Linked DNA regions of Homo sapiens. The protein of the gene in region 1 interacts with the protein of each later gene in a pairwise test. Each region holds a gene or a part of one and is shown in the gene's direction. Other genes may lie near its edges. The genes, in order: CIMIP4, MEOX1, CCHCR1 and TRIM23.

Region 1 (5,044 bases):
ACAGGTTGGGTAGGGCCTTGCAGATAAATGGGAGGATGTCAGCTTTTACTGTGGTTGAGCTGGAAGGTTTTGTTTAGAGGGGTGACATATGATCTAATATAGGTCTTAACAGGATTGCTGGGCTGTTGAGTGAGAAGACTGTCAGAGGATATGGTGGACTCCAGGGTGGTCCCCATATTATCTGCCCCCTCGTGTTCATGCCCCGTGTGACCCTCTCCCTTTCACTGCGGGTGGGACCCGTGACTTGCTTTTAACCAACAGCCTACGGCAAAGGTGATGGATGCCACTTCTGTGACTATGGTACACAACATTGTAATGCCCCATCTTGCAAGGGGACTCCCTCTTTGCTGGCTTTGATGAAGTCAGTGTCATGTTGGTGTTGGGGGGCCCACATAGCAAGGAACTGAGGATGGCCTCTGGCTGACAGCCAGAGAGAGCCTGAGACCCTCAGTCTAACAGACTGCAAGGAACTGAATCCTCCCACAGCCACATGAGCTTGGAAGCATATTCTTCCCTAGTGGAACCTCAGATGAGACTGCAGCCCTGGCCAATACTTGGATTGTAGCCTGCTAAGACCCCAATGCAGAGAACTCAGCTAAGCCATGAGTAGACACCCGACCCAAAGAAACTGTGAGATAACAGTTGTATGTTAAGCTTCGAAGTTTATGGCAAGATTGTCGTGCAGCAATAGATAATACTTAGGCAAGAGATGAGGGTGGCTTGGACCAGGGAGTAGGGGGAGTTGTGGAGGTGGACGAAGGCATCCAAATCTAGTGTACTTCGAAGGACTTGCTGATGGGTTGCTTGCGGAAGTAGCTTAGAGTTTTGTGATGTCTCTCTCTGTGCAAGGCAATGTGCTACATTTTGCAAAAAATTGTTTTATTCGCCCATCACCCTTATCCTTAGTGTTGGGTGATATCTGTTTCACATGTGAAGGAAGTTCAGCTAAAGGACTTGGCCAGTCTCTTATCTAATAAGTGACAGGCCCAGATTCTGGGGACTCCAAGTTTAACCACAGCACTCTCTGTTTCCTGGGGAAATCCTGAAAGGCTGGGCTTGCAGGAGGCGTTCACTATACCCACTCTTTGTCCAGGCTGAGCAACAGCCAGACAGGAATGGGCCAGTGCTGGCACCAATGACTTCTGCCTCCTTCTTCTCTGCAGAAAAGAAGTCACTTAATTTTGTTGATCTCCTTCTGTAGCCCTTGTTGTTTAGGAATAGGAGAGAGGACCCTTCCTTTAGTTTTACTCCCAGGTCCCTGATCCCTGGGTGTCCAAATCAGACAGCTCCAGATGCATCTTTCTCCTTCCCCATTGACCTCGACCTACATTTATGCTGTTATACACATCCATGCCTTTAATATTCTCATCCCTTCAAAACTGTTAAGTTCCTAGGCATCCTTCAAGATCCAACTCAAATGGCTCTTTCATAAGTCCTTCCTCCTTTTTCCTACACAGAGCTAGTTCTTCTCCCTACTTAGTGCTTTGAGCTCCCAAGAACATCTTTTGCACTTGGTAGCATCTGAGCCCCCTGTGCCTGGCACACCTGGCATGTAGTGGGGGCTCAACTGACATTCTAGAGTGGATGAGAGAGTGAACAATAATTGAAGCCCCTCCTGCCTTTTCCTGGCCTCAATCCTGGCTTTCTCCTGGCCTCTTTTCCCTACGGGTGGGCCTATCAGCCCTCTGAGGTAACAGAGCCCTGTGTATAGTGATCACCATGGCAACTCCAATGAACATCTTGGGGAGGGCCACTTCCCAGCAACCATCCATTGGTCTTCACCAGTAGTTCTGCAGTGGGGATCTGCACTTCTGGGCTTCAGCACACATCAGTGTGGTTCACGTGTTTCCTGCTGTTATGAAAGAGATTGGAGAGGTGAGGCAGAGACTTATGAAGGGCCAGGGTTCTTCCAGGACATGGGGTTTCATCTTCCTTCTCCCCATTCAGAGTTGCTTGTGAGTGAAGACTGCCTAGACTGGACTTACCTTCCCGCCCTCTTTGACCAAAGTCTCTTGGGATCTCTCTCTCTGGGTCAGAAACTGGAAGTGAGTCCACACTTCCATTGTAGCCCGTCCAGACTGCTGTGGACTGGCAGTGCACTGGGACGTACAGAGCTGCCGTGGGCACGTCAGGTTGGTGGCTGGGGATAGGAGGAGAAAGAAAACTTGGAGCTAACTTGAACTTCACCTAGCTTGAAGATGTGCAATTTAATTTTAGCCCCACCTGGTGAAGTCCTGTGTCTTTTCGGAGCCTCATTTTCTCCATCTGTGAAAGAAGATAAATTAGTAGTGTCTCCGAACACCTTACTGGGTATTTGTGAAGACCAGACTAATTTACCAGATGTGAGAATGCTTGACATGGACTTGTGTTAGTTATCTCTTGCTGCACAACAAATCACCCCAAAACTTAGTGGGCTTAAGACAACATTTACTATCTCACAGTTTCTGTGAGTTGGGAATACCGGTGGAGTGTTGGTGATTTTTCTGTCCCAGGGTCTCTCACAGGCTGCAATCAAGGTGTTGCTTGGGTCTCTAGTCTCATCTCAAAGCTCGACCAGAGAAGGAACCCATTCACATGGCAGGATCCAGCTACTCTGGAGCTGTTGGCAAGAGGCCACTCTGAGTTCCTTGCCCTGTGGACCTCTCCATAGGGCATCTCACAACAGGGAAACTGGCTTCTGTCAGAGAAGATGAGCTGAGGAGAGCTGCAGAGAGTGTGTGAAAAAGACAGAAGTTGTAGTCTCTTATAAGTTCATCATGGATGCAACATCCCTCATTTTTGCCACATTCCATTCATCACTATGTCCAGTCCACACCAAAGGGGAGAGAATTATACCAAGAAACAGGGATCATTGGGAGCCATGTCAACTGCCTGCCACTCTCTGCCCTCTGGCCCCCAATAATGTACATCCCTTCCACATGCAAAATATAGTCATCCCCTCCTAAGATCTTTAAAATTCTCATCCTATTAAAGCATCAGTTTAAAAGCTAGAATCTGGTCATATAAATCAGCTCCAGGTGTGGCTGAGGCTCCTCCAGTGTCGTTCCTTAAGTACAGCTTCTCAGATTCAATTCTTCCCCATCATAGATCTGTGAAACTAAGTAATTTGCCCTGAACACACCTAACATACAGTGATGTGATAGGCATAGGATAAGAACTAGTGACATTCCTATTCAAAATTGAGGAAAATGGAGACATGGAGTCAATGTTCCATAGCGGTTTTGAAATCCAGCCACACAAATGTTGGACATTCCTTGATTAGGTTTCAAGGCCTGGGGATAATTCTCCATGGCTCTCAGCTCTGCCTTCTGGACTCTTGCATCCACTCTCTGACTTGTCTTTTTTATTTTTATTTTTTGTTCAATGGTATCTTTTCATTTTGTACTGTCTCTATCCCTTTTACCCGAAGTTGCCAACATTTTGCTGATGTTATTTTCTCAACAGTAAAACTTACAGGGGTTCACTCCATTGAACAAAAGTCACACCCCTTTTTAACTGAGGCTCCTGTTGAGGAGCCTTAAGCTTCCTAGAGGTCCTATGGTTCTGTTAAGAGGATATATCAGGCATCTCTTTAATCTCTTTAAAGCACCCTTTGTTTGACAGAGTAATACCCTCATCCTTTGATCTTTCTGAAGTTTTAACAACAGGTCGCACAGTCACACTCCTGGGCACACTTTCCAGACAGCCTTCTGAAGCTATTTCTTAATTTTAGCATCTTTTGGGATCTGGAAAGGATGAGACTTCAGAACCATTAAGTACTGGCATCTTTTTGTTTAACAGTCCCTTCTTCAATTCATCACCTTCCTCTCACATTTCACTACAAGCAGCAAGAAGAAAGTAAGAGGCAACTACCATCTTTTCTTTGGAACTCTTTAGCTAAATCATTCAGTTCATTAGTCACATAACTGCAGATGACAGTGTCACTGTTTCTGCCACTACATAACAAGGGTCTTTCTTCCACTATTTCTAGTAATATATTCCTCACTTCCATTTGGGCCCTCACTCACTGCATCTTCCAACTCCAGATTTCTGCTTAAAAAAAAAAAAAAACTGTTTAAGGTGATTTAGGCTTTTTCTATCATGCTTCTCAAAATCCTTATAGACTCTGACCACCGCTTGGTTCCAAGTTCAGTCCCAAATTTTTAAGTATTTGTTATAGCAACACCCCACTGTTAGTACCAAAATATGTATTAGCTATGTATTGCTGCGTAACAAATGACCATAAAGCTTAGAAGTTTGACACTGTATGTTTAAAACAGTACAAATTTATGATCTCAGAACTTATAGGAGTCAGGATGCTCACTTGGCTGGGTCCTCTGGCCCAGGGTATCCCACAGGCTGTAATGAAAGTGTCATCCAGGCTGTGTTCTCATATCAAGGCTCAACTGGGGAAGGATCCACTTTCAAGCTCATTCAGGTGTCAGGATTCATTCAGTTCTTCAAAGACTGTTGGACTCAGGGCTTCTATTCTTTATGAGCTTTTGGCCAGAAGTCACCCTCAGTTTCTTGCTCCATGGGCTGCTCCACAGGGCAGCTCAAAACACGGCATTTGCTGTCATCAGAATGAGCAAACCAAGGAGAACCAGGGAAAGAGAGCAAACAAAACCGAAGTCACAGGCCGGGCACGGTGGCTCACACCTGTAATCCCAGCACTTTGGGAGGCTGAGGCGGGTGGATCACTTGAGGCCAGGAGTTAGAGATCAGCCTGGCCAACATGGTGAAACCCTGTCTCTACTAAAAATACAAAAATTAGCCAGATGTGGTGGTGCACACCTGTAATCCCAGCTACTCAGGAGGCTGAGGTGGGAGAATTGCTTGAACTTGGGAGGTGGAGGTTGCAGTGAGCTGAGATTGCACTACTGTACTCCAGCCTGGGTGACAGAGTAAGACCCTGTCTCAAAAAAAAAAAAGAAAGATCACATAAGAAAACAAAACACAAGCACGAAAGCTGCAGAGGCTTTTGAATCTACCCCTCTAATTTGAATCCAAGGCCTTAGAGAGAAGACTGAGTTTACACCAGAGCAAAGTGTGGGTTCCTGCTCTT
Region 2 (5,181 bases), on another chromosome or scaffold:
TACTAAAAAATACAAAAAATTAGCCGGGCGTGGTGGCGGGTGCTTGTAGTCCCAGCTACTCGGGAGGCTGAGGCAAGAGAATGGCGTGAGCCCGGGAGGCGGAGCTTGCAGTGAGCTGAGATCATGCCACTGCACTCCAGCCTGGGCGACAGAACGAGACTCCATCTCAAAAAGAAAAAAAAAAAAAAGAAGTTCAGAGAGATAAGGTGACTTGTTCCAGGGCACACAGCCAGGAAGTGGCAGACCTGGGGCTTGAACTCAGACCCGTCTAACCTCAAACCCCATGCCTCCTCCTCTGCATCTGGCCTGCTCCAAACTGAACAGCAGGACACCTGAGGCCAAGTGCTGATTCCACCATTTCTTAGCTGTGTGAGTCTGGGCAGCCCAGTCATCCATCTGAGCCTCGGTTTTGTCATCTGCAAAATGGAGACATAATTCTTACTTACCCATCCTAGGAAAGTTGTGAGGCTCAGAGAATTGTGTGTGCCACAGCTAAGCCCTGGGCAAAGCAGAAAGATGAGTCTGGTTGACAGCTATGACCCCATCCACTCTACTGGTCTACAACACTCTGACCGCTTGTTCCAGAAGAGGGCACATCTTTTCATATGTACACCCCTCCCCATCTTTTACAGCTGCTCCTGCTCCCAGGATGTGTATCTGACTGGAGTTTCTGGATTAAAGGCCAGTCGTGGCTTCATTCCACATCCCTGGGTGCCCTTCGGCTCCTCCTAGGAGCATCTCCTGCACCCACCCCCCAGGGCCCCACCTCCAGGCTGCAGAGCTAAGACCTAGGGGCCCCTCCTCAGGGAACCCTCGCCGTCTTTGGAAGCAGCCAGCAGAGACGCTGCTGTTAAGGTCCATGCCTGTTTCTGCCCCCATCCTGCTGCTCTGGGCCATGGGAATAACCAGTGGGGAAGGAGTTCTGGCCCCTGGGTGTTAGGAATGTCGTCCTCCAAGAAATTGCATTAACCCTCTGAGAGACCAGCAGGGCGCAGCCATGAGGAAGACTGGGCATCAAGATGGCACTTGGGCTGGCTGCCCTGTGATGTGCACCAGCCCGGAGACCCACGTGCCTGCTTGCCAAAGAGGCTCCTTTGGGGAATGAGGAGCCCCTGATTCCTATTTCCCTACCCCAAATTCCTCGGAAGCCTCCGCCTCTGGGGGATGAGAAAGGGAAGCAGGTGGGTGGAGGTGAAGGGGGCAGGGAGCAGGTGGGAGGAGACCCGAAGAAACTTCAAGGACCTTATTTAAGAGCCTTGCCATTGCTGTGAAGAAAAATGACTTGAAACCTCTCTAGAGAAGAGTGTGGCTAATTGGCATGTATGTTGGAGGTTAAAGAGCGGAAGGAAGAATCTGATTGTTTTTTTAAGTTACTGAGAAAGTGAGAATGTCACTCTGGGCAGAGAGAAATTCTTTTTTTCTAGAGTGTGCCTTTCTTTGTACTGCAGACCACAGTGGGCCGCTGAGACTTGCAAAAAAGATTTCTTTTAATCCACCTTCCTTTTTCGCAGGCAGCAGTAGAAGGGCCTTTAAATCAAATGCAATCACCAAGCTTGTCTCTTGCTCTTATTCCTCACTTCACTCCCTGGAATTTGGCATTTGATGGATTCTGGATCTGACTTAAGGCTTTTTCTAAATCCAAGACTTGGGGAATTTTGTTAACAGTGCAATAAAAATAACTTCATAGTGTTACAGGAGGCACATTAAAGACGGTGTGTGTGTATGTGTGTGTGTGCTGCTCTCTTTCCTTAAAAAAAAAATACAGACAATGTTTCTTTAAAAGTCTCCATCTGCAAATCCCATTAGATGTGCATATAAGGTTTCTGATGATTAATAGTTGCCTGCTAGGGTTTTGGTTGGAGGGGATCTTGTGTGTGTGGGTTAACCCCTCCCTCTCCTCTCTCACATTTCACTTCAGAAATTTGTCACTCTCTCCCCACCGCAGGATTTAAAAGTGTGTCCCAGCAGCCCTGGTCCAGCCCTCTGCAGGCATTTGCTCTGGGCTCCAGGACGAACTCCTCGTCAGCTGGTGCGTCTGGGTTGGGACAGTGAAAATGTTTAGTGTCATTGGCGACAAATACACATACAGGGGATCCCAGTAGGTAGGCTGGTGCATTGGAGGGGCAGGAGCAAGCCCGACATAGGTGTGTGCACACACATAGGAGTAGCTGGCCACATGTGTGTGTACTTTAAGGAGAGACTTTAGTTTTGGGTTTTTTTTTTTTTTTGGTTCCTGGGGTAAATTTTCTGTTGAACATTTTTCCCTCCTATTTAGTTTTTTTTCTTTTGCATTTTTAAAAATTTGAACATAAAAAGTATAAAGAATCAAATCTTTGAAAGGACCGAGGCGTGCAGCGGACAGCAGATGGATCCCGCGGCCAGCAGCTGCATGAGGAGCCTCCAGCCCCCAGCCCCTGTCTGGGGCTGCCTTCGAAACCCCCACTCGGAAGGCAATGGGGCCTCAGGGCTACCCCACTACCCGCCCACCCCGTTCTCCTTCCACCAGAAACCAGACTTCCTGGCGACAGCGACGGCAGCGTACCCTGACTTCTCAGCCTCCTGCCTGGCAGCCACCCCACACAGCCTGCCCCAGGAGGAGCACATCTTCACTGAGCAGCACCCCGCTTTCCCACAGTCCCCCAACTGGCACTTCCCTGTCTCAGACGCCCGGCGCAGGCCCAACTCAGGCCCGGCAGGGGGTTCCAAGGAAATGGGGACCAGCAGCCTGGGCCTGGTGGACACCACAGGAGGCCCAGGCGATGACTACGGGGTGCTTGGGAGCACTGCCAATGAGACAGAGAAGAAATCATCCAGGCGGAGAAAGGAGAGTTCAGGTAGGTGGCTCAGGAGCAGCTGATCATTCCTTTACTGTGTGACCCTGGGGAAGTTACTCACCCTCTCTGTGCCTAGGTGCTCTGAGCATGAATTTCTGTCTAGTCCATCCAAATGCAGGAGACTGGACCAGTTACCTTTGGGGTTTCTTCCACTGAGAGTTCTAGGATTCTCTGGTGATGGGGACCATGTCTGTGTCCCAGCACTCCTGGGCCCCAGAAAGGGTGTCCAGCAAGAGAATGAAACAGGATCAGCCAGGATTTGGAGGACACGTGAAATGGATCCTCTGGGTGCAGACTGGCGAGGGCTGGTGAGGGGCTTTCCTGAATCAGGCTGCCATTGAGTCATCCTCCTCCCCACCATGCTTTGGCCAGCCCCAAGTGGTCCTAGAGCCACAGGGCTCGCTTACCAGGGAAGTTCAGCTGAGGTTAAGGCTCTGAGAGCTAAGACTGAAGCTGGGACCCTGGGTGGCCACCCAAAGCCAAGACCCTATGTGTCCAGGAGCCTAGAGGCAGAGAAGCAGGCCTGCGGCTGGGATGGGAGAATCAAGGGGTGAGGGGGAGATGGAGGGCTGAGGTTTGGGGCAGACTGCCCACCAGATATCACCCTGCGGAGCTGGGCCATGTCCAGGCCAAGGGGACAGACAACTCAGCATGCTGAGATCTGGCTGACCCCCCAGGAAGGCAGCCCCGCAAGGAGCTGCAAGGGATGGGCAGCCTCTGAGAGAGTCAGGGAGGCAGGCAGCCAAGGGAGTCCGTGCTGGAGTCCCAGAGGCTGGAGGATGAGATTGGCCTATTTGTTAAGATTCCAGCTAAAGCCCTTCTCTTCCCCAGGGTGGGGACCTGCTGCTTCCTCACCTCCCCACCAGGCCCTCCCTGGTTGCTCACTATACCTGTCCACCTTTTGTCTGGTTCCTTGTCCCGGCCTCGTTCAGAACAAAGCAGTGACCAAGCCTCCTGCCCGTGCTGCCCTGTTTTCCTCCTGACAGCCGCCCTCAGGGGCACGCCTGTCTGTCGGAGCCTGTAGAGGACCTTCCCATGGGGCTAACCAGGGCAGGACAGAAAAGAAGGACACCAACCAACAGGTGGGAATGCTTTGTGCTTTGCTTTATAAGCACAGCTTTCCCGAGTTTCTGCTCTTAGCCAAGCCCAGGAATGCTCTGAGATGAATAAAGGGGTCTCACCCAAGAAAGCTCAAACTGAGAGGAAGAAGAGGCCTGCAGAGGTGTGTCAGCAGTGGGATGTGCCCTGATGGGGAGGCTTAAGGTGCCATGGGATACTGACGTCAGCTCTTTTGAGTCCCACGGGTTTGGGAGATGGGGACAGCAGGTTTTATTAGTACCTTGATTCTCTCAATCTGCAAAATGAAAGACTGAAAGTTGGTGAGAACACAGAAAGAATGGGGTCAAACTAGAGTGAGCAGCTCATCTCCATTTGCCCAGGACTTTTCCAGTTTTAGCACTGAAAATCCTGTCGTAGGAAACCCCACAGTCCCAGGCAAACAGAAGAATTGGTCACCCTAGAAGTGAGCTCAAACCCCAGGCTTCAGGCCCCCGGTATCACCCCCTTCAGTAGATTTCAAATGCAGTCCTCATTTTGAAATGATGTTTGGTCTGTCTGCTTGAAGAAGCCCCTTCTTCAATGGGAGATAGGAACTCTAGCAGCCCTCATGGCTGCTAAATAGAAGGGCCCTTTAAACCGCCAGCCAGTTAGATCCCCATCCCGAAAATTAACTCATCCTGCCCCTGGTAGGAAATGTGCTAAGGATGAGAAGCAACTCTCAGCGACTTGGCTCTGAACCTGGTTGAAGAGCTTTCCCCTTGGTGGCGGCACGCAGCACTGTGGCTCCTTCCTCTCTGCCACTTTCCAGAGAACTGACAGCCAAGGGCATTGGGAAGGGATAGCAAAGCCAAGAGCCTGCTGGGCTCAGGCAGAATCTTCCAGCATTCCGAGTCTCAGCAAAACCCAAATGCACCAGCTCTCTTTTTGGCGAGTGGCCGATGGCCCTGCAATGCAGAGAGACCATTCACACTAAGCAGCTGGCCACCCAGGAGTACAGGGACACCCTCGGCTGAACGGCCTGCATGCTTCAGGGTCAGACTTTGGTGGAGGGAGGTTCCCATCCGCAGGGGCCCTGGGCTTCCCTAAGGGTCCCCTCAGGAGCACCAGCAGCAGATGAGGCAGGGCCCAGTGAGCTGACTCTCACTCATCCCCCTGTGATTCCAGACAAACTCACTGTTCAGCATGGAAATCTTTATTGCCGCAATGCTTGCATCCTCCTTTGGAATTTAACTGAAGGGGAGGAAGGAGGCAAGAAAGATCAGCTTTGTAAGAGCCCAAAGAAGGGGGA
Region 3 (4,560 bases), on another chromosome or scaffold:
TATGTAGCTCTCTCTAGGGAGATCATGTTCCACGATCTCAGCCAGACTTTAGGTCCTGTGAGTCCAGGCACTGGACTCAACATGCTCAATAGGGCTTTGATGAATGATGATGATGTCAATGCAGACATCCCCATACCCCAGCTTCAGCACCCCCTTCACCTCCCCACACGGAAGCAGAGGGGTCCTCTTTTCCTTCTCCTGGCTATGTTTATGCCCTCAACTATCCTTCCAGCACTGGAGACAAGTCTCACCTGCACTAACCTGTCTTTGAAGGTCCTGGGGGCTGGAGGGGTCACAGGCCCTGAGCCAGCAGGCTGAGGTGATCGTTCGGCAGCTGCAAGAGCTGCGGCGGCTGGAGGAGGAGGTCCGGCTCCTGCGGGAGACCTCGCTGCAGCAGAAGATGAGGCTAGAGGCCCAGGCCATGGAGCTAGAGGCTCTGGCACGGGCGGAGAAGGCCGGCCGAGCTGAGGCTGAGGGCCTGCGTGCTGCTTTGGCTGGGGCTGAGGTTGTCCGGAAGAACTTGGAAGAGGGGAGCCAGCGGGAGCTGGAAGAGGTTCAGAGGCTGCACCAAGAGCAGGTGAATGCAGGGGTAGAAAGGATTCAAATTCATAACGGAGAGCTGGGCAGTAGCTTCCAAGCAAAGAACAGGTATTGCAGAAAAGACCCTCCATGAGTAGTGAGTAGTAGAGTGATGAGACCTTTGGTGAAAATAAACACACATGGCCTAGAAAGATGGAGAATTTGGGTACTTTTATCTTAATTCAGGTTGCACTTTTCCCCCAAGACTCAGGTGGCCTCCCACCACTTGAAGCCCTGCTTCCCTTTCTAGTAGGAAATAGTTTGCCTCCCTACTTTACTCCAGGTACCAATTCATCAGGGGTATTGTGGAGGGCAGTGAGGAAGGTGGGTATAAGGGGGCTATGGTGGACTGGGAGAGAGAGATTATTCAGTCCTCAAACTCAGTACTTACTCTTTGCCATCTCTAAGACTCAGTGACCAAATTAGCCTGAGTCCTGCCTTCGTGGATGGAACTGACAGCCTCGTGGGGGATATACACATCCACATTTAATTTAATCATAATTAATTGCAATCAGGAGGAATGCCTTGAAGGAGAAGGACTAGAAAGCACTAACTTAGTCTGGGGTTCAGGGAAGGCCACTGTAACCAGTTGACATGTCAAGGAAAGAAACCATAGCCCTGGGCGCAGTGGCTCACGCCTGTAATCCCAGCATTTTGGGAGGCCGAAGCAGGCAGATCACAAGGTCAGGAGTTCAAGACCAGCCTGGCCAACATGGCGAAACCCTGTCTCTACTAAAAATACAAAAATTCACCAGGCGTGGTGGTGCGCACCTGTAATCCCAGCTACTTGGGAGGCCGAGGCAGGAGAATCACTTGAACCTGGGCAGTGGAGGTTGCAGTGAGCCGAGACTGTGCCATTGCACTCCAGCCTGGGCGACAGAGCAAGACTCTGTCTCAAAAAATAAAATAAAAAAGGAACTGGGAGAAAACAAGGGAGAATTCCTTTATAACCTTGTAGTGGGCAAGGCCTTTCTACCTGTGAGTCAAAATCCAAAATCTAGAAGCCATAAAGGAAAAAATTGATCCATTGACTTTATAACATGAACATTAGGAATAGCCAAAAAGAAAAAAAAAAGCTATATTTATAGCTCAGATCACAAGAAAAGGGTAATATCCCTAATATAAAATGTGTGCCTAGAAATTGGTAAGGGAAAGACCAGCAATCCAATCAGAAAATGGACAAAGGAGATTTATGAAAGAAACTTAGAAACAAGAAGCTAGGCCAGGCACAGTGGCTCATGCCTGTAATCCCAGCACTTTGGGAGGCCGAGGTGGGCGGATCACTTGAGGCCAGGAGTTAAAGACCAACCTGGCCAACATGAAGAACTCTACAAAAAAATACAAAAATTAGCCGGGTATAGTCGTGGGCGCCTGTAATCCCCCAGCTTCTTGGGAGGCTGAGGCAGGAGAATTGCTTGAACCTGGGAGACAGAGGTTACAGTGAGCTGACATCACACTCCAGCCTGGGCAGCAGAGCGAGACTAAAAAAACAACAAGCTACCGTTTGTGCTGAATAGGAGTTGGCCAGTGAAGAGGCGTGTGAAGTCCAGTGGTAGCTGGAAGACACTTGGTGGGACAACAGGTGAAGGCGGGGACAGGAGGCCAGAAGGCTGGGGCACAGAGATGAGGGGCACTGAGTGTGCTGCAGAGCCCAGGGCCCAGGGCACAAGGCTTTGGCCACTTCAGAACTTGCTACTTTCCCATAAGAGCAATGAGCAGGCTGGGCACAGTGGCTCATACCTGTAATCCTAGCACTTTGGGAGGCCAAGGTGGAAGGATCATTTGAGCCCAGGAGTTTGAGACCAGCCTGGGCAACAAAGCGAGACCCCCATCTCTATTTTATGGAAGAAATTAGGGCTGGGCATGGTTGCTCACATGTGTAATCCTAGCACTTTGGGAAGCTGAGGCGGGTGGATCACTTGAGGTCAGGAGTTCGAGACCAGCCTGGCCAACATGGTAAAACCTCATCTCTACTAAAAATACAAAAATTAGCTGGGCGTGGTGGCTCATGCCTGTAATCTCAGCTACTCAGGAGGGTGAGGCAGGAGAATCGCTTGAACCTGGGAGGCAGCGTTTGCAGTGAGCTGAGATCGTGCCATTGCACTCCAGTCTAGGCAACAAAGTGAAACTCCATCTCCAAAAAAACAAACAAAAAAAAATTGTTTTTTCAAGTAATAAGCAACCGTTGAAAGGTTGTTTTTTTTTTTTTTTTGAGATGGAGTCTCGCTCTGTCGCCCAGGCTGGAGTGCAGTGGCGCGATCTTGGCTCACTGCCAGCTCCGCCTCCCGGGTTCAAGTCATTCTTCCGAGTAGCTGGGACTACAGGCGCCCGCCACCACGCCCAGCTAATTTTTTGTATTTTAATAGAGACGGGGTTTCACCATGTTAGCCAGGATGATCTCGATCTCCTGACCTTGTGATCCACCCACCTCGGCCTCCCAAAGTGCTGGAATTACAGGAATGAGCCACTGCGCCCGGCCTGTTGAAAGGTTTTAAGCAGGGAAATAACATGATTAGATTTGTATTTTATGTCTAAAAAATTTTGTCATTTATGTCCCCCAAATTAATTTTATTGTTGTATGGAGACAGGGCTAGAGGAGGCAGACCAGGAAGCAGGGTGGGCACTTTGCCCTCCTTTCCAGTCCATCCCATGACTCTTGGTGGCTCTGACACCCCTGCAACCCTTTGAGGTGCCATGAGCAAAAGACACAAAATTCCTCCTTTCCTGGAGCTTTCCTTCCAGTGTGGTCCGACAGATAGTAACACATACACATAAGCAAGATATGGTCAGTGCTAAGTGCTCAGGAGGACGTGAACAGCTGATGGGGCAGAGTAGGGTGGGGAGGGACGGTATTAGAGGGCCCAGTGAAGCCACCCTGAGGAGGGGCTATCGCCTGGGGTCTGTGGAGCAAGGAGGGGCCGCTGTCTGGTTCTCAGCAGACTCCCCGTGGCCGGAGCGGGGAGCAGTGGGAGAGCCTCCAGGGTGAGCTCAGGAGGTAGGCAGAGGCCGGGTCCCCTGGCCTGCAGGTGTGGAGAGACACCTGGGTTTTGTTGTGAATGCTGTGAGAAGCCACTGAGGGTTTGTAAAGACTAGTTAGGAGATGGTCGCTGTTGCCCAGGCAAAAGATGAGGGTTGGTGGCAGTGGAGACGGAGACAGAGAGGTGAAGATATGTTTTGGGGGAGATCGGACAAGAACTCCTGATGGGTTGTGGGGCAGCTGCGGAGAGTGAGTTGCCAGCTCTCCATTTGCTGTGCACAGTTGGCTGATTGGTTGGGTCATTCTCTAAGGTCACAGAAAGTGGGAGTGAAGGGAACAAGGAAGGCCTCCATGTGGGGTCGAGCCTCTGCTGAGCCCCCTCTTCTTTCCGCAGCTGTCCTCTTTGACACAGGCTCACGAGGAGGCTCTTTCCAGTTTGACCAGCAAGGCTGAGGGCTTGGAGAAGTCTCTGAGTAGTCTGGAAACCAGAAGAGCAGGGGAAGCCAAGGAGCTGGCCGAGGCTCAGAGGGAGGCCGAGCTGCTTCGGAAGCAGCTGAGGTAGGTGGGCGGACGCCGACGGGAGCCCAGCAATTAGTGATGTGGTGGATCTGCAGGGCGCCCCACTGATGGCTGTCCCATTCCCACCCCAACCCTAGCAAGACCCAGGAAGACTTGGAGGCTCAGGTGACCCTGGTTGAGAATCTAAGAAAATATGTTGGGGAACAAGTGCCTTCTGAGGTCCACAGCCAGACATGGGAACTGGAGCGACAGAAGCTTCTGGAAACCATGCAGGTGAGGGTGCAGGAATGTATCTGTGTGCAGACTTAGGGATCAGGTTGGGAGGCAAGCGTGGCCCTTGGAGGAGCGTGTAGAGCACAGCCTCCGGGAGAGAAGGTGGTACCTAAGGCGGCATGGAGGCCCTACAGAGGGGCTGCTTTCCTCTGCCCGCAGCACTTGCAGGAGGACCGGGACAGCCTGCATGCCACCGCGGAGCTGCTGCAGGT
Region 4 (4,560 bases), on another chromosome or scaffold:
AGGGATATACATCAGATTCATAGTAGAAATTTCTGGGAATTGAGCAGCACTTTTTCATTTTAATTGATTTACCCTTATTGTGATTTTTTTAGTATAGCATAAAAACATGTTTAAGATTTAGAGGATTCATTTGAGTTAGAAAATCTGAGAAAATTAAGTGGGTATGTATATTCTGTTATACAAAGACAAAGTGGTCAGTTTTACTAAGGCAAGATTTAGCCATGGGGAAGGATTTCATCTTCTTGAGATCAGACTCAGTATTTTGAGGAATACAATTCAGATTGCAATGGTTGAGGAATGAATAGGAGATGTAGAAATAATAAAGGTGCTAAATGCTATTACTTTCTAACTGCATGTCAAACATATTTAAAAATATTTAAATTGTAGGATAATCGAGTTCACATTGGACCAAAAATGGAAATTCGGGTCGTTACGTTAGGATTGGATGGTGCTGGAAAAACTACTATCTTGTTTAAGTTAAAACAGGATGAATTCATGCAGCCCATTCCAACAATTGGTAAGTATGAATATTGGTTTTTACCTTAATAGACAAACCCTAGCTTACAGCCAAGTTCTTGGGGTCTTATTTGATACTGATCTGTCATGGTGGTGGGCTCTTTTCTGGCTCTAAGATATCAGCATCTCAGAGAAAAAATGCAAGATTGTATGACTATGGGATTGAAATGTGGATGGGGATAAAAAGAAGAAACAGAGTATTGGTGGGACAGTTGGAAGGAATAGAGGATTGGTGATCCTGGCTGAGGGTGTGGGGTGGGGGGTAGTTGTGGAACAGAGCTGGAAGGTACATGGATCCCAAGGTCCTAAGGACCTTGGTGGAGGTTTAGAGGGCTAGGAGCTGTTACAGGTATACATTCACCACGTAGGAGTAGGAATGGGGTTGATTAGGCTTCAGTAGATATTGCTGCATGTAGATAATTTGATAAGTCACAGTTATAAACTGGGGGTTGTCTGTGTTTGATATGTCATTCATTGTAAATACAAATATAGTATAAAAGTAACTTTTTTTTTAAAACAGGTTTTAACGTGGAAACTGTAGAATATAAAAATCTAAAATTCACTATTTGGGATGTAGGTGGAAAACACAAATTAAGACCATTGTGGAAACATTATTACCTCAATACTCAAGGTGAGAGTTAAAAATGACATTTAATTTTTCACATTTTTAGGATGACAGTTTTCAGTGTACTGATTTAACTAGCAAAGCTGATACTTATGATTAAGTCGTTGACTGTATACTTAAGTACCTGTGGCCAGTTTCTTAACTTGTAAAAAATGAAAGTAGAAAGATTAGGATATATACTTTTAGTTTATTCCTGATATACCATTATTACAGAATAAAAACCATACGTAGCTTAGATATGTAGTCAGTTAAGAGTACTCTTGCTTCTCTTAACAGAGAGTGTATATTACCAGTATTATATGGGTGTGACTGCTGGTAGCGTAGTGGTATAGAGTTGAATTTATGTTGTATGATTCTGCTGAATTCAGTTAAACTCAACATTTATCCCATTATAATCTCACTATAGCCCCACTCCCACATTTCTTTCACAAATAGTTATTACCTGCAGAAGAACTTACAGTAGCTTGCTTTTGACCAAACCGTATTATATCATATCTATACTCTACATAGGTTTTAGTCACATTTGGGTCTTACTCTACACTTCTGCCTCATAGACCCCAACATAATGCTTACGCTCATGCCGCTTATTCTGTATGTTATTCTGCTTTCCACCAAGATGAGAGACTGAATAATTATTTTTACTTTGGGATTTTTGATATTATTATGAGCCATAATTAATAGAAAAAATGTATTTTTTTTTTGAGACAGAATCTTGCTTTGTTGCCCAGGCAGGAGTACAGTGGCATGATTGCATTTCATGGTCACCTCTGTCTCCTGGGCTCAAGCAATCTTCCCACCTTAACTTCCCAAGTAGTTAGGACTAGGTATATGCCACCACATTCAGCTAATTTTTTTTTTTTTTTTTTTTTGAGATCGAGTCTTGCTCTGTCGCCCAGGATGGAGTGCAGTGGTGCGATCTCGGCTCACTGCAAGCTCCGCCTCCCAGGTTCACGCCATTCTCCTGCCTCAGCCTCCTGAGTAGCTGGGACTACAGGTGCCCACCACCATGCCTGGCTAATTTTTTTGTATTTTTAGTAGAGACGGGGTTTCACCATGTTAGCCAGGATGGTCTCCATCTCCTGACCTCGTGATCCGCCCGTCTTGGCCTCCCAAAGTGCTGGGATTAGAGGCACGAGCCACCGCGCCCGGCCACATTCAGCTAATTTTTAATTTTTTTTTAATAGAGATAAGGTCTCACTATATTGCCCAGGGGTCTCGAACTCCTGGGCTCAAGTGATCCTCTCACCTCAGCCTCCCAAAGTGCTGGGATTATAGGTGTGAGCCACTGTGCCCTACAAAAATGAAATTTTGAATATGAGGAATGGTTGAAAGTCTGGAGATAGTTAACTTAGACATAATACTTTGGAGAAATAAAAATGGTGATGGTTTTTATCTTTTAGTCTTTTATTCAAAGACTAAATATTAGAAAAGTAGTATTCGAAGAACAAGTAGCATCCATAGGTAGAGGATCATGAGGCATATTTTGAAATTCGTTATGTAAAAAGTTATTTGATATACAGACCAATTTGCATTTGATAGAGCAAGTGTTGTAAATCCTTTCCTAGATGGGGAAACTAAACCTGAGAAGTTATGTAAACTACTTGAAATCATACTGTTAATTATTTGTAGGTGCCCCTGCCATACTAGGCACCCTCTGTGTGAAAATAATGATGGTAGACAAACTCTAACCATAACATAATAATGATATCATTAAATATTTGGTTCATTTACTGAACTTTAGCAAGTGACTATTTTTGTTTTTTTTATTTTTTTTTGGGTAGCTGTTGTGTTTGTTGTAGATAGCAGTCATAGAGACAGAATTAGTGAAGCACACAGCGAACTTGCAAAGTTGTTAACGGAAAAAGAACTCCGAGATGCTCTGCTCCTGATTTTTGCTAACAAACAGGTAATGCATTTTTATATTGGAATATTTATTTTAGTAGTTTTGTGCATGTCAAAAGGCAACTGGAAATATTTCAGAAGACAATCAGTTCAATAGATATTTATAGTTTCTTCTGTGTATTTTGAGTACAATCTATGTGAAAATGCTGTGCTGGGTACCTGGGAGTATACAAAATAGAAATAAGGTAGTTAATGCTCACCAGAAACTCCTGTGTATGCATATGAACACATAAGAGATCTGAATACGAAGAAGACTGATAAGTAACTTAAGTAACACAGTGTTACGGGAATTAGGAAAGTAGTTCTAAATGTGGCATGTTGTAAGATTGTAAAATGTAGAATTTGAGTTGAAATTATGCATGAGGCTGAGTCAGTATGTGAAAGGAAGAACATTATAGACAGAGAAGATAATAGCATGAATGTTTTTAGTTTAGGGAACATCAAGCAGATCTATATGTCAGGTCTCAGTAGAGGATGAAGAGAATTTAGAATAACAGACAAGGCCATGCTGTAAAGGTCTGACAGTGCTAGACTGAGAAATTTAGGTTTTATTCTATGAGCAAGGAGGAGTCATCAAAATGTTGGATTAGTGGGTAATAAGATCATATCAGTGTTTCAATACTATAATTCTAGGGGTAGAATGAATCAGGGCAAAGGACTGGAGACAGGGAGATGCAGTAAATTGCTTAAATAATTCAAGTGAGCATTAACAAGAGCCTGAATTAGAGGAATAGAAAGGCGGAGGCAGATGGAAAAGACTTTGAGGCAGAACTGGTGACTGAATGGGGAGGATGAAGGACTGGGAGTAGCTGAAGATTCCTAGACCTTGAGCCTTTCTAGGAGGATGAGATGCTTTTAAGTAGAGGCAGAAGGAGAGTAGAAGTGGAGCAGAGGAGATGTCATGGGAGGGGAAGAGTAGGATGAAGAATAAAGAATTTTCCCCTTAATAAAAAAGGCAAACTATTAAGAACTGGTATATTTAAGACATGCAAATAAGTCAGTGAAATACCATTTTCTGCTCATCAGATAGTTAAAGATGAAAGTGTTTTATAATCCTCAGACTTATATACAACTGTTACTATTATTATTTTGAGACTGAGTCTTGCTCTGTCACCAGGCTGGAGTGCAGTGGCACAACCTCTGCTCACTGCAACCTCCCCCTCCTAGGTTCAAGCGATTCTTCTGCCTCAGCCTCCCAAGTAGCTGGGATTACAGGTGCTTGCTACCACACCCGGCTAACTTTTGTATTTTTAGTAGATTCAGGGTTTCATCGTGTTGGTCAGGCTGGTCTCAAACTCCTGACCTCAAGTGATCTGCCCGCCTCATCCTCCCAAAGTGCTGGGATTACAGGTGTGAGTCACTGCGCCTGGTCAACACTGTTCGTGGGTTATTAAACTGAGACATTTTCTTGGAGGACAATTTGGCAATACTCATCAAAGTCCCTTACCCTGCAATTCTACCTTTATATATCTGGTAGACAGATATCCAAAGGTTATCCTACAGATAATTTTGCAAAT

What was found.
Region 2: the proteins of CIMIP4 (region 1) and MEOX1 interact in binary tests that used the Homo sapiens proteins (3 or more experiments, as listed by UniProt).
Region 3: the proteins of CIMIP4 (region 1) and CCHCR1 interact in binary tests that used the Homo sapiens proteins (3 or more experiments, as listed by UniProt).
Region 4: the proteins of CIMIP4 (region 1) and TRIM23 interact in binary tests that used the Homo sapiens proteins (3 or more experiments, as listed by UniProt).

The regions. Positions count from the first base shown.
Region 1 is NC_000022.11:37,004,560-37,009,603, reverse strand, and holds the start of CIMIP4 (ciliary microtubule inner protein 4), read left to right. Parts: upstream 1-1,752; 5' UTR 1,753-1,875; intron 1,876-1,947; exon of another isoform or gene 1,948-2,132; intron 2,133-5,044.
Region 2 is NC_000017.11:43,658,719-43,663,899, reverse strand, and holds the start of MEOX1 (homeobox protein MOX-1), read left to right. Parts: upstream 1-1,977; 5' UTR 1,978-2,365; coding exon 2,366-2,834; intron 2,835-5,181. UniProt on the Homo sapiens protein: Mesodermal transcription factor that plays a key role in somitogenesis and is specifically required for sclerotome development. Required for maintenance of the sclerotome polarity and formation of the cranio-cervical joints.
Region 3 is NC_000006.12:31,150,513-31,155,072, reverse strand, and holds part of CCHCR1 (coiled-coil alpha-helical rod protein 1), read left to right. Parts: intron 1-273; coding exon 274-577; intron 578-3,950; coding exon 3,951-4,114; intron 4,115-4,212; coding exon 4,213-4,348; intron 4,349-4,507; coding exon 4,508-4,560. UniProt on the Homo sapiens protein: May be a regulator of keratinocyte proliferation or differentiation.
Region 4 is NC_000005.10:65,593,008-65,597,567, reverse strand, and holds part of TRIM23 (E3 ubiquitin-protein ligase TRIM23), read left to right. Parts: intron 1-387; coding exon 388-517; intron 518-1,036; coding exon 1,037-1,147; intron 1,148-2,922; coding exon 2,923-3,047; intron 3,048-4,560.